3 linked regions of the Homo sapiens genome follow. The protein of the gene in region 2 purifies or fractionates together with the protein of the main gene of each other region. This does not show direct contact. Each region holds a gene or a part of one and is shown on either strand. Other genes may lie near its edges.

What was found.
Region 1: the proteins of CMAS (region 2) and NAA15 fractionate together in Homo sapiens (co-fractionation; one large-scale study listed by BioGRID). This does not show direct contact.
Region 3: the proteins of CMAS (region 2) and MTMR12 fractionate together in Homo sapiens (co-fractionation; one large-scale study listed by BioGRID). This does not show direct contact.

The regions. Positions count from the first base shown.
Region 1 is NC_000004.12:139,339,446-139,343,099, forward strand, and holds part of NAA15 (N-alpha-acetyltransferase 15, NatA auxiliary subunit), read left to right. Parts: intron 1-1,466; coding exon 1,467-1,624; intron 1,625-3,380; coding exon 3,381-3,515; intron 3,516-3,654. UniProt on the Homo sapiens protein: Auxillary subunit of N-terminal acetyltransferase complexes which display alpha (N-terminal) acetyltransferase (NAT) activity. The NAT activity may be important for vascular, hematopoietic and neuronal growth and development.
Region 2 is NC_000012.12:22,059,718-22,063,371, forward strand, and holds part of CMAS (N-acylneuraminate cytidylyltransferase), read left to right. Parts: intron 1-1,114; coding exon 1,115-1,209; intron 1,210-1,563; coding exon 1,564-1,735; intron 1,736-2,563; coding exon 2,564-2,717; intron 2,718-3,654. UniProt on the Homo sapiens protein: Catalyzes the activation of N-acetylneuraminic acid (NeuNAc) to cytidine 5'-monophosphate N-acetylneuraminic acid (CMP-NeuNAc), a substrate required for the addition of sialic acid.
Region 3 is NC_000005.10:32,229,706-32,233,075, forward strand, and holds part of MTMR12 (myotubularin-related protein 12), read right to left. Parts: intron 643-3,370; coding exon 73-642; 3' UTR 1-72. UniProt on the Homo sapiens protein: Acts as an adapter for the myotubularin-related phosphatases. Regulates phosphatase MTM1 protein stability and possibly its intracellular location. By stabilizing MTM1 protein levels, required for skeletal muscle maintenance but not for myogenesis.

The sequences.
Region 1 (3,654 bases), on a different chromosome or scaffold from region 2:
ATGAGTGTGCCACTGCACTCCAGCCTAGGTGATAGAGCGAGACCATCTCTTTTAAAAAACGCAATAATTAGGAGGCGGGCGGATCACGAGATCAGGAGATCAAGACCATCCTGGCCAACATGGTGAAACCCTGTCTCTACTAAAAATACAAAAATTATAGCTGGGCGTGGTGGCAGACGCTTGTAATCCCAGCTACTTGGGAGGCTGAGGCAGGAGAGTTGCTTGAACCTGGGAGGCAGAGGTTGCAGTGAGCTGAGATCATGCCACTGCACTCTAGCCTGGTGACAGAGCGAGACTCCATCTCAAAAACAAACAAACAACAACAACAACAACAAAAAACAACAAAACCCAATTACTTTGGTAGGAGAATAAAAGAAGACAGACTGAAGATAGGTGGGTTGGGTAGCTGGTACAGTAATCAAGATCTAAAGTGAAAAAGGGCTGTATTTGGGAAGTGGAATATTCTCCTCCTTGATAGCAGTTTTTACAACCTACTTTAATTTTGCTTATTTATCTGTCCTTTACTAGACTTTAAGATCTTTTAATATAGGAGGCTATTTTGATGACCTACGTCTTAGTTATTAAGAAGTTTTAGGCTGGGTTTGGGAGCTTATGCCTGTAATCCCCGCACTTTGGGAGGCCAAGGCAGGTGTATTGCTTGGGCTCAGGAGTTTGAGACCATCTTGGGCAACATGGCGAGATCCCATCTCTACCAAAAATAGAAAAAAATAGCTGGCATGCTGGTGTGTGCCTGTAGTCGCAGCTACTCAGGAGGCTGAGGTGGGAGTATCACTTGAGTGCAGGGAGTGGAGGTTGCAGTGAGCAAAGACCACACCACGACACTCCAGACTGGGTGACAGAGCAATACCTGTCTCAAAAAAAGGGAAAGAAGTTTTAATAATTACGGTTAAATGAATGAATGTTTTTATTTTATATGTGGCTGAGTTTTAGAAACTTTGTATTACACTAAGGGTTGTCCTAAGAATCTTGTTAGTTCAAGAAAATAAAATCTTCATGACTTTACATAACTGGATTCCATGAAGACCCATTCCTTCTTTTTCCTTTTACTATTAATAATATAGTAACTGTTTACATATATATATATTGACTTTGTGCCAGCCAGTGAGCACTTTATATATGTTATCCCATTTAGTTGTCAGTAGTATGATTTGCTGCATAGACTATTTGTTTACATTTTAGTAATGAGGAAACTTAATGAGACTGATTTGTCCAAGGTTACAGAGCTGATAAGGTAGGCAAGACCTAATTTTCTCTGGCTGCAAAAGCTGTGCTCTTTTCCACTGTATTAAACTGCTTTATATCTTTGAAATCAATCTCCCCCTCCCCTTCCCCTTCTTTTTAAGCTTGTAGTTTTATAAATGGCTGTGGTTCTCCAAGTTTTTTGGGAGGTCGTTTGGAATAGTAATTTTTGACTTGTAGGTTGTACCCTTAACTAAATTCTTTAGGTTGGCACGTTTATGGCCTTCTTCAGAGGTCAGACAAGAAGTATGATGAAGCCATTAAGTGTTACAGAAATGCACTAAAATGGGATAAAGACAATCTTCAAATCTTAAGGGACCTTTCCTTACTACAGATTCAAATGCGAGATCTTGAGGGTTACAGGGTAAGTAAAATAGAGACTTTTTTTTTTAATTCTAAGGGGAAAATATGTACAACTTTGAGTACTTTCAGATACATAAATTTTTTATTTCATTTTGAAAATAATTTAATTGAATTTTTTTTTCCTCCTACCACAGTGGTTATGTTTATGATTGGAATAATCAGATCTTTAAAAATAAATTATTTTATGGTGAGGCAGATTTGGCCTACTGTGTAGGGTTGACTTAATTTGATAAAAATTAACATCAGGCCAGGTGCGGTGGCTCACGCCTGTAGTCCCAGCACTTTGGGAGGCCCAGGTGGGTGAATCATGAGGTCAGGAGATCGAGACCATCCTGCCTAACACAGTGAAACCCCATCTCTACTAAAAATACAAAAAATTAGCTAGGCGTGGTGGCAGGTGCCTGTAGTCTAGCTACTCAGGAGGCTGAGGCAGGAGAATGGCCTGAACCCGGGAGGTGGAGCTTGCAGTGAGCCAAGATCACGCCACTGCACTCCGGCCTGGGTAACAGAGCGAAACTCTGTCTCAAAAAAAAAAAAAAAAAAAAAAAAAAGAAAATCAGTACTCCTCAAATAAACAATGCCTTTGTCTAGTATTGACATGTAACTCTAACATTTACTTCCCACATTTTTCTGGAAAGCAAAACAAAAAAAAAATTTTTTTTTTCTTGGAGACATTAGAGTCTCACTCTGTTGCCCAGGCTGGAGTGCAGTGGCATGATCTTGGCTCACTGCAGCTTCCACCTCCTGGGTTCAAGCAGTTCTCATGCCTCAGCCTCCTGAGTAGCTGGGGCTACAGACATGTGCCACCATGCCCAGCTCATTTTTTATATTCTAATAGAGATGAGGTTTCACCATGTTGCTCAGGCTGGTCTTGAACTCCTGAGCTCAGGCAGTCCACCCCACCTTATTCTCCCAAAGTGCTAGGATTACGGGCATGAGCTGCTGCACCTGGCAAAAACAAATGTTTTGTTTCTTCTTTCTACCTCCACTGACTCTAATATATTTTTGTAGCTTCGATTTTAACCCTTAAATTAGTGTTAGATCTATTTAGTTCCTCTTTCATATTCTTTCCTCTTTATGTATGTTAACTCTGTAGTTGGACACTTAATTTTTAAAAACATTTTTGAATATTTTTCCTTTGTGCTGTTCTTTCCATCCTGCCTCTTTTCTGGGACTGAGCAGATCAAGAAATAAAGAAGGGTCTTAAGTTTGGTCTTAAGTTTTAAAAACTTAAATCTGGTCTTAAGTTTTAAAAAAATTCTAAGATTAGCTTGGAGGCTTCATTATGTTCTTAACAAATATTTCTTTGCCTCCATAAAGCTACACAATATGGATGTTTGAAGTATTTTCTATTATTGTTCCCATCATTGTGTTGTAAAATGCTTGGGGTTGTGGGATAAATTAATGTGTGTTTTTTTTTTTTTTTTTTGAGACGGCGTCTTGCTCTGTTGCCAGGCTGCAACCTCTGCCTCCCGGGTTCAAGTGATTCTCCCGCCTCAGCCTCCTGAGTAGCTGGGACCACAGGCGTGCACCACCATGCCCAGTTAATTTTTGTATTTTTGATAGAGACGGGGTTTCACCATGTTGGCCAGGATGGTCTCGATCTCTTGACCTCGTGATCCACCCGCCTTAGCCTCCCAAAGTGCTGGGATTACAGGCGTGAGCCACTGCGCCTGGCCTAATATGGAGATCTTTTAAAGGAGCACTTGCTGTTACTAAAAGCCTAAGAAAAAGTGTTTATTTTTTTCCTTTTAAAGGAAACGAGGTATCAGTTACTTCAGCTTCGACCTGCGCAGAGAGCATCATGGATTGGTTATGCTATTGCTTACCATTTATTAGAAGATTATGAAATGGCAGCAAAGATTTTAGAAGAATTTAGGAAAACACAACAGGTAATAACTAGAAGCCATTTTACTAAGTCTGATCCTAAGTATAACTAAAAAAATAATGTGCATAGTCTGGCTTACTTTTAATTTTGAAATAGTTTCAAACTTATAGAAAAGTTGCAGGAATAGCACAAAGAACTCTACA
Region 2 (3,654 bases):
GATTTGACACACATAGATACTACCATTTTTAAGCTTTTTTCTAAGGAGGACCATGATTAACCCATTCCTAAAGTGTGGAGAAAAATGTTTCTCATTAAAACAAGGTTTATGAAGAGACTGACAATTCTGAAAAAAAAAATGAAATTGAAATTGTCCAGTAATTGATCTTGTCATTCAAATAATTACTATCAGAAGAAAGACCCTTTCTCTTGCTGACCCTTGCCTAGAATCAAGAGACTGCCCTTGCCTTTGCCTGCATGTGACTTGGATGACTATTAGTCATTTTCATCAGTAGCTCAGAGATCTAAGAAAACTCTGTACAACAGATGCTACAGTTATTTTTCCTCCCCTGTGTTGCCTGTTAGTTGCAAATTAGAACAGAAGTTCCAAAAACCTTAATACTGCTTTTGGATGATGACAGGAGAGACTTCTTGAAAAAAAGGAGGATATGATTAAGGGATTTCCACAAAATCCCTTGTGGTCAGAAACCTGGAGGATGTAATATTTCTGCTTTTTTCAATATTAAAATAGAAATTTTCTTAAATAGGGAACTTGAACTGTTTAGATAGAATTTGAAAAATGTTAAGGTTATTTCTTTTGTGTGAGCTTTCTCCTTAAAAAAAAAAAAAAAAAAAAAAAAAAAGCTGGGCGTGGTGGCTGAAGCATGTCATCCCAGCACTTTGAGAGGCCAGCTTGAGGCCTCAAGAGGATAGCTTGAGGCCAGGTTTCCAAGACCAGCCTTGGCAACATAGCAAGATCTTATATCTACAAAAAACTTTTTAAAAATTTAGCCGGACATGGTGCTGTATACCTGTAGTACCAGATCCTTAGGAGGCTGAGGTGGGAGGATTGCTTGAGCCTAAGATTTCAAGGTTATAATGAGCTATGATTGCACCATTGCACTCCAGCCTGGGAGGCAGAGTGAAACCCTGACTCGAAAAAATAAAAAAGTAAAAATAAATTTAAAAATCATTTTTATGTGACTGATTTTTACTGGGTTATTCATTTTTCTCAGTACTGTAGAAATGAATTCATTGTTCTGTATTATAATAAAGTTTTGATATATGTGAATGAATATTAAAAACAGTATTCATGACATTTATACTACCTTTAGGGTGGAAAAATGGCATACTACGAAATGCGAGCTGAACATAGTGTGGATATAGATGTGGATATTGATTGGCCTATTGCAGAGCAAAGAGTATTAAGGTAAAAACAAATAAACCTTTATAACCTTTGTACTAAATCTTAATAATTATATTTCTAGATACTGATTTCTGATACTTCAGACATCTTAGGATCTTTGTAATTACTTTGTTCATGTGAGGAAGACATGTAAAATATGTGTTTACATGGCTTCAATAAAGTGAGAAACATTATCTGGCTAGACCACACTACTTTTACTTACTGTACTATATGTTAAAATATATATGTGAAGTAAATTTGGAGAGTAATGTTTGAATAATTGAATGGAGGGTGACATTTCATGTATTGGTTTAGCCAGATGAGAGGGAGTGATTAGTACTGCACTTGTACTCAAAGGTCTATTTTGGTTTCTTTTAGATATGGCTATTTTGGCAAAGAGAAGCTTAAGGAAATAAAACTTTTGGTTTGCAATATTGATGGATGTCTCACCAATGGCCACATTTATGTATCAGGAGACCAAAAAGAAATAATATCTTATGATGTAAAAGATGCTATTGGGATAAGTTTATTAAAGAAAAGTGGTATTGAGGTATGTGCTCCCTGAATATAGCAGTATTTTATAATATTTTGATTCAGGGTCAAAGAACATGCAAGGAATTAAGAGATTTAAATTTTTAGTATTAACTCTTAAAATATCTGAAATTTGGCCTTCATACGCCTAGAAAATTATTATACTATTTAGTTTTAGATGAGTAGAATTAGGAATTTGTTAATCAGCAAATAATATTTCTTGTTTATTCAGTAAATATAAACATAACTACTTTTAAATGGGAGCTATCTAATGTTTCCCAAAGGATCTTGCAGCAAGAAAGATTCCCTAGATAATAGGTGTACCATTTTAGAAAAGGACGATATCCTGTGGATTTTTAAAATCTAGCTTATTCTTATGAATGACATTTTTGATTCAAAATAACTTAACGTTTAAGTGTATTTTTTTAAATGAAAGCTAGCTAAGATAATTATAATTTACCAGAAATCCTAAATATGTATTGCTAAGCAGCACAAGAGAGAGGTTATAGACTTTCCTCTGGATAAATTGAATTATAGGAGAATCTTAGAGTAGTATCAGACAATATATGTTGTAATTTTTACCTGTAGATAGAATCCTTTCTATTGTAGAAAATAAAATACTGTGTCTCACCTTTATTGGGCTATGAGAAATAAAATGAGCTTTGTTTTAAAGCATCATGATTTTAATTCGACAGTCAGTTTTCTTACTTGGACCTTCAGAAAGTCAAAAGATGACTCGTTTGTGATTTGGACTGTCTACAAGGTCAATTATTATGAAAGATTTCTGTTTTCTTCACTTTTTAATTTTTCCCTTCTTCCTCCAATCCTTTTTTTTTTTTTTTTTAAGGTGAGGCTAATCTCAGAAAGGGCCTGTTCAAAGCAGACGCTGTCTTCTTTAAAACTGGATTGCAAAATGGAAGTCAGTGTATCAGACAAGCTAGCAGTTGTAGATGAATGGAGAAAAGAAATGGGCCTGTGCTGGAAAGAAGTGGCATATCTTGGTTGGTATCTTTTTATTCACCCATAGTAAAATGGACCAGGAATTAATTATTTACTTATTTTTAAAGAAATGACAAAGCACATCCTCCAAATGGGTATGATTGTAGGGAAATAGGAACTCTTTTAACAAACACTGCTGATCAAACTGTTAAACTGGGACAGTCTTTCTGGAGGTTAGTTTGATAATAGGTATCAAATGTAGAATGATTATTAGCACAAGCTGTGAAGTCAGACTGTACCACTGATTAGCCAGTTGTGATAAGATGAATGTTGTTTCCTCATCTGTAAACTGGAGATATCGAGAGTACCTATTACCGTAGGGCTCTGGAAGGGATTAATAAAATAATATGAGTAAAGCACTTAGCAGAATTTCTAGTACATATGAATTACACTCTGAATAGTTTTTGCTGCTAATTGAATGTACATACTTTTTCCTCCAAATTCCAATTCCAGGAAAGAAATGAGACAAATGGGCCAATAGTGAAGTTAAAAGAACCCACTTAAATGTCCTGTGAAAAATAGAATATCCCTAAAAAGGATTACTATGCAACCATTACAAACAGTGCTGTGACCTGTATTTATTTGCATGATCAAATATAACAATGTTTTTCACTTGGATATTAAGCAATACACTTACTTACCAGGTACCTATGATGATACGCAGCATGGAACTGGTTGTGGGAACTGTAGGCTTTCTGCTTGCAGAGCTTACAGTCTGATGATGTCAACATTTTAAAATTGATAAGTTATTAAGATGCATAATAACTATAAATCATGTATGAAAGCAGTATTTACAAGGGTAATATGAGCCTCAAAATAAGAAGCACAGGAAAAACTTTGGGAGCATGTGATCTAGAGACTTCAGGAATAACCCTTAAACCACACATGAAGATTTAATGGACATAAATGCTGCAGAATGTTTGTTAAAGACAGATCCAA
Region 3 (3,370 bases), on a different chromosome or scaffold from region 2:
GCGTGACACAAATCCAGGGATCAGCTGTCCCAATCTCCCACATTCCTCTTTCACAATCACTCAACAAACAGGTCACACATCCCCTAGGTCCACGAACTCATCTTCTCGTTTGGCCAAATCGTCTTCATCTCCCAAAGCTTTCCAGCCACTGGTGGGTAAGACGGGCTTAGAGGAATGTCGCTGGAGCAGAGCGAAAGGAAACAAAGACGAGAGGCGGGCAGAGTTCCTCAGCAGGCAGGGGGCCTCAGCCTGGGGGGCCTGCTGGCTGTGGTGTCTCTCGTCGATCTTCTCTTGTAAACTCTGGACTTCCTCCATCATTTCCAAGAGTTTGCTCAGAGTGGCCACTTGGCCACCACCTAGGATTTGGGCTTCTGGAATCCAACGTAGGTAGCGCTGGGCCCAGACTTTGATTTCGGGCCCCTCGATATGCGGTAACAACAAACCATGGTAGTCAGTGGACTTGCTATGCCAGCTGTCATAGAACTCTCGAAAGTTGTCTTGGAGCTCATCAGAAGAATTAATAAGTTTGCTAATTCTCTTGCCCAGAAGGTTTTTAATTAAATGATCTGTTTCTTCCCTGAAAAATCCTCTTTTGGGAGATGACTTAGATTGTGTAAGTGGCAAAGAAAGTTGTCGTTGATGCTTTGAGAGAAAACACAAATAAAAATCACTGGTTAACATAACAGGCACAGTTAACAGCTGTTACCATAACAAAAAGAGCATAACCCTGCTTTAACAAGTTCCAAGAGACATCAGTGTTGCCATGTGAATGCACACTCATTAACACGCTGTGACATCCAGAGGTGGGGTATTCCTGTGTATTGCCATGGTGCACACTGTACCAGAAACAAATGGGGAAGCAGGTGCACGTGGCAGCTGTGCAGAAAGGCATGCTGGGACACAGAGAAAGGAGCTTTTGGTGCCCTCCTCCTCTGTCACAGGGGCACCACAGGACACAAAGCACTTCTGAAAAAGCTGTTTAACTTAAGATAGTTTAATGATTTAGGGGAACTTGTGGGTCAGGCCCATTCATGTTCTAAAGGGAAAAAGATGTTTCTTCTTTGAGAACTTTAAGGCTGTTAACCACTACAATCTTCTGAACAACTGCAAGGAGGCACTGCTAACTACCAGAAGATACTATCACATGGGTGAAATAGCAGCTTATCAGGCATCCAGTGGGAGTTTAAGCCGAAGTCATAAAGATTCTTTTAGATACAGAAAACAGGCAGGTGAGAGCAAAGAAATGTGATGAGCCAGCTAAGCTGACCAGACTTGTCTGGCAACCTGCATGGAGTAGAAAATGGGAGAGCATTTTCACATTTTCATATTTCCCCCCTTGGTCATTCTCTCTGTGGCCAGAGCAGAGTATTATATTTGGGGGTGCACTGAGAAAGGGTTTTGAGGCTGGGCGCAGTAGCTCATGCCTGTAATCCTAGCACTTTGGGAGACCGAGGCGGGCAGATCACCTGAGGCCAGGAGTTCAAGACCAACCTCAACCTGGCCAAAATGGCAAAACCCCATCTCCACTAAAAATAGAAAAAATTAGCAGGGTGTGGTGGTGGGCACCCGAGGCTGAGGGAGGAGAATTGCTTGAACCCAGGAGGCAGAGGCTGCAGTGAGCCGAGATCACGCCGTTGCACTCCAGCCTGGGCAATGACAGCAAAACTCTGGCTCGCAAAAAAAAAAAAAAAAAAAGGGTTGTAAAAGATGGATGTGGTCGGAAGGTCATGAGGGTTCCCCAGTGCCCAAAGCAGAAGTAAAAACATGTGGGGAGAAGCTGTTTGTCCAGCTCTTTTGCTACTGTTCATTTGAAGTAAGAAGAGATAACAACTTAATTTTCAGGTTCACTCTAAAACTCTCTAACATATTTCCATCAATGGTTCTTCCTTGTAAAAAGATATTCTTTATTGTAAAGAAAATTATTTCCTTATTATGAAATATGGAATAACAATAAAAATATTAAAAAGAAAACAAAACCATCCACAAGACCACAGCTCGGAGGTGACCAGGATTTGACTTTCCATCCAGGGTCAGGAAAGATGAAGGCCAGGATTCAGTGGCCTCTCTTTTTCTCCATCGTGAAGATGTGTCAGGCAGGGCAGGGACTACACTGAACCACCACCCAGTGCTTCCTGCCTGCTCGGTTCTGTGCTCAGTACTCACATTCACTGAGCACCTCATTCTCAAAGTCACTATTATTGCCCCACTTTACAAGCAAGGAAACTAAGGCACAGAGGTAAGCAATCTGCCGAAGGCACTGCTGCTCAGTGCCAAAGGTGGTTCAAATAGTCTGGCTCCAGAGCCTGGGCTCTCTACTGAGCTCTCCTTGGTCCTGGAAGCCCCCTTCTCTCTATCTCCTAAGCAAAGGGAGCACTCAAGACCAGCTGACATGCCAGCAGCTCTGCAGGCCAAAGCCTGGCCCGGGCCTGCGGCTGACACCGAGGCTGCACACTGGAATGGGTCCCCCCCACCGTGTGGCATTTGCACGGCAGCACCACATGCTGCTCAGCCCCTGCTTCCTCAGAGTCTCTGCAGAACTTCCCCCAGGCCACCAGGCCGCTCAACACATTGCTCCACCTGATATCTGGTCTTCTTACCCAAAGGCTTCAAGGTTTCTTGTCGCCCCCGTCCCAACTGTGATTTAGCTAGTGCAACCTGAAATTCTCCACCCCTTCAGCTCAGTCCTTTCCCACCTGCCAACTCCTGGAGCTTAGGCTGTCTGTCCCTATCTCCCAAGGAAAAGAGATGATTAGAAAAGCTAGGTCTGAGGAGAGAAATGAAATCCATTATTGGAAGGGGGAGCCTTAGGTTCCTCCCGTAACACAACAGACGTTGTCCTCGCTGTCTCTGAGGTCCCCTGCCACTCTGGCACAGGGCAGTTTCTCTGGTGCCAATCCAGCTCTCATGAGAATGTGCATGCAGCCACCAGGGGGCACAACACACTGAAGAAAAACCAATTTCTGGCCAAGCTGTTCTGGGGCTCAGGGCAATTCTGGTTAAACTGGCAGAAGAGGCTCAGCCAGAAAGGGGAAACTCCACCCTGGGCCTGCGGCCCCTAAAAGGGCAAAGTGGCCATTCTGAGTCGTTCAGCAGCCAACATCGTCTCTGCTGGCCGTGGCTCACCCAGGTCCCCAGTCCTCTTTAGAATGGAACCAACTCTGACACCAGAAAGGGCCAGGCTTTCTGAAGCCCTCCAGATCAGGCAGGATAAGGATGGCATGGAGAAGGCAGTGACACACATCGACTTAGACTTACCATCACTGCTCTCTCCTTTGTGGACTCTGTGGGGGAGAAATTCTGGGCCTGGAGACAGAGCTAGGAAATGTCAGTTAAATAATTCATCAGTTAGGGAACTTTGGGATTATCAACT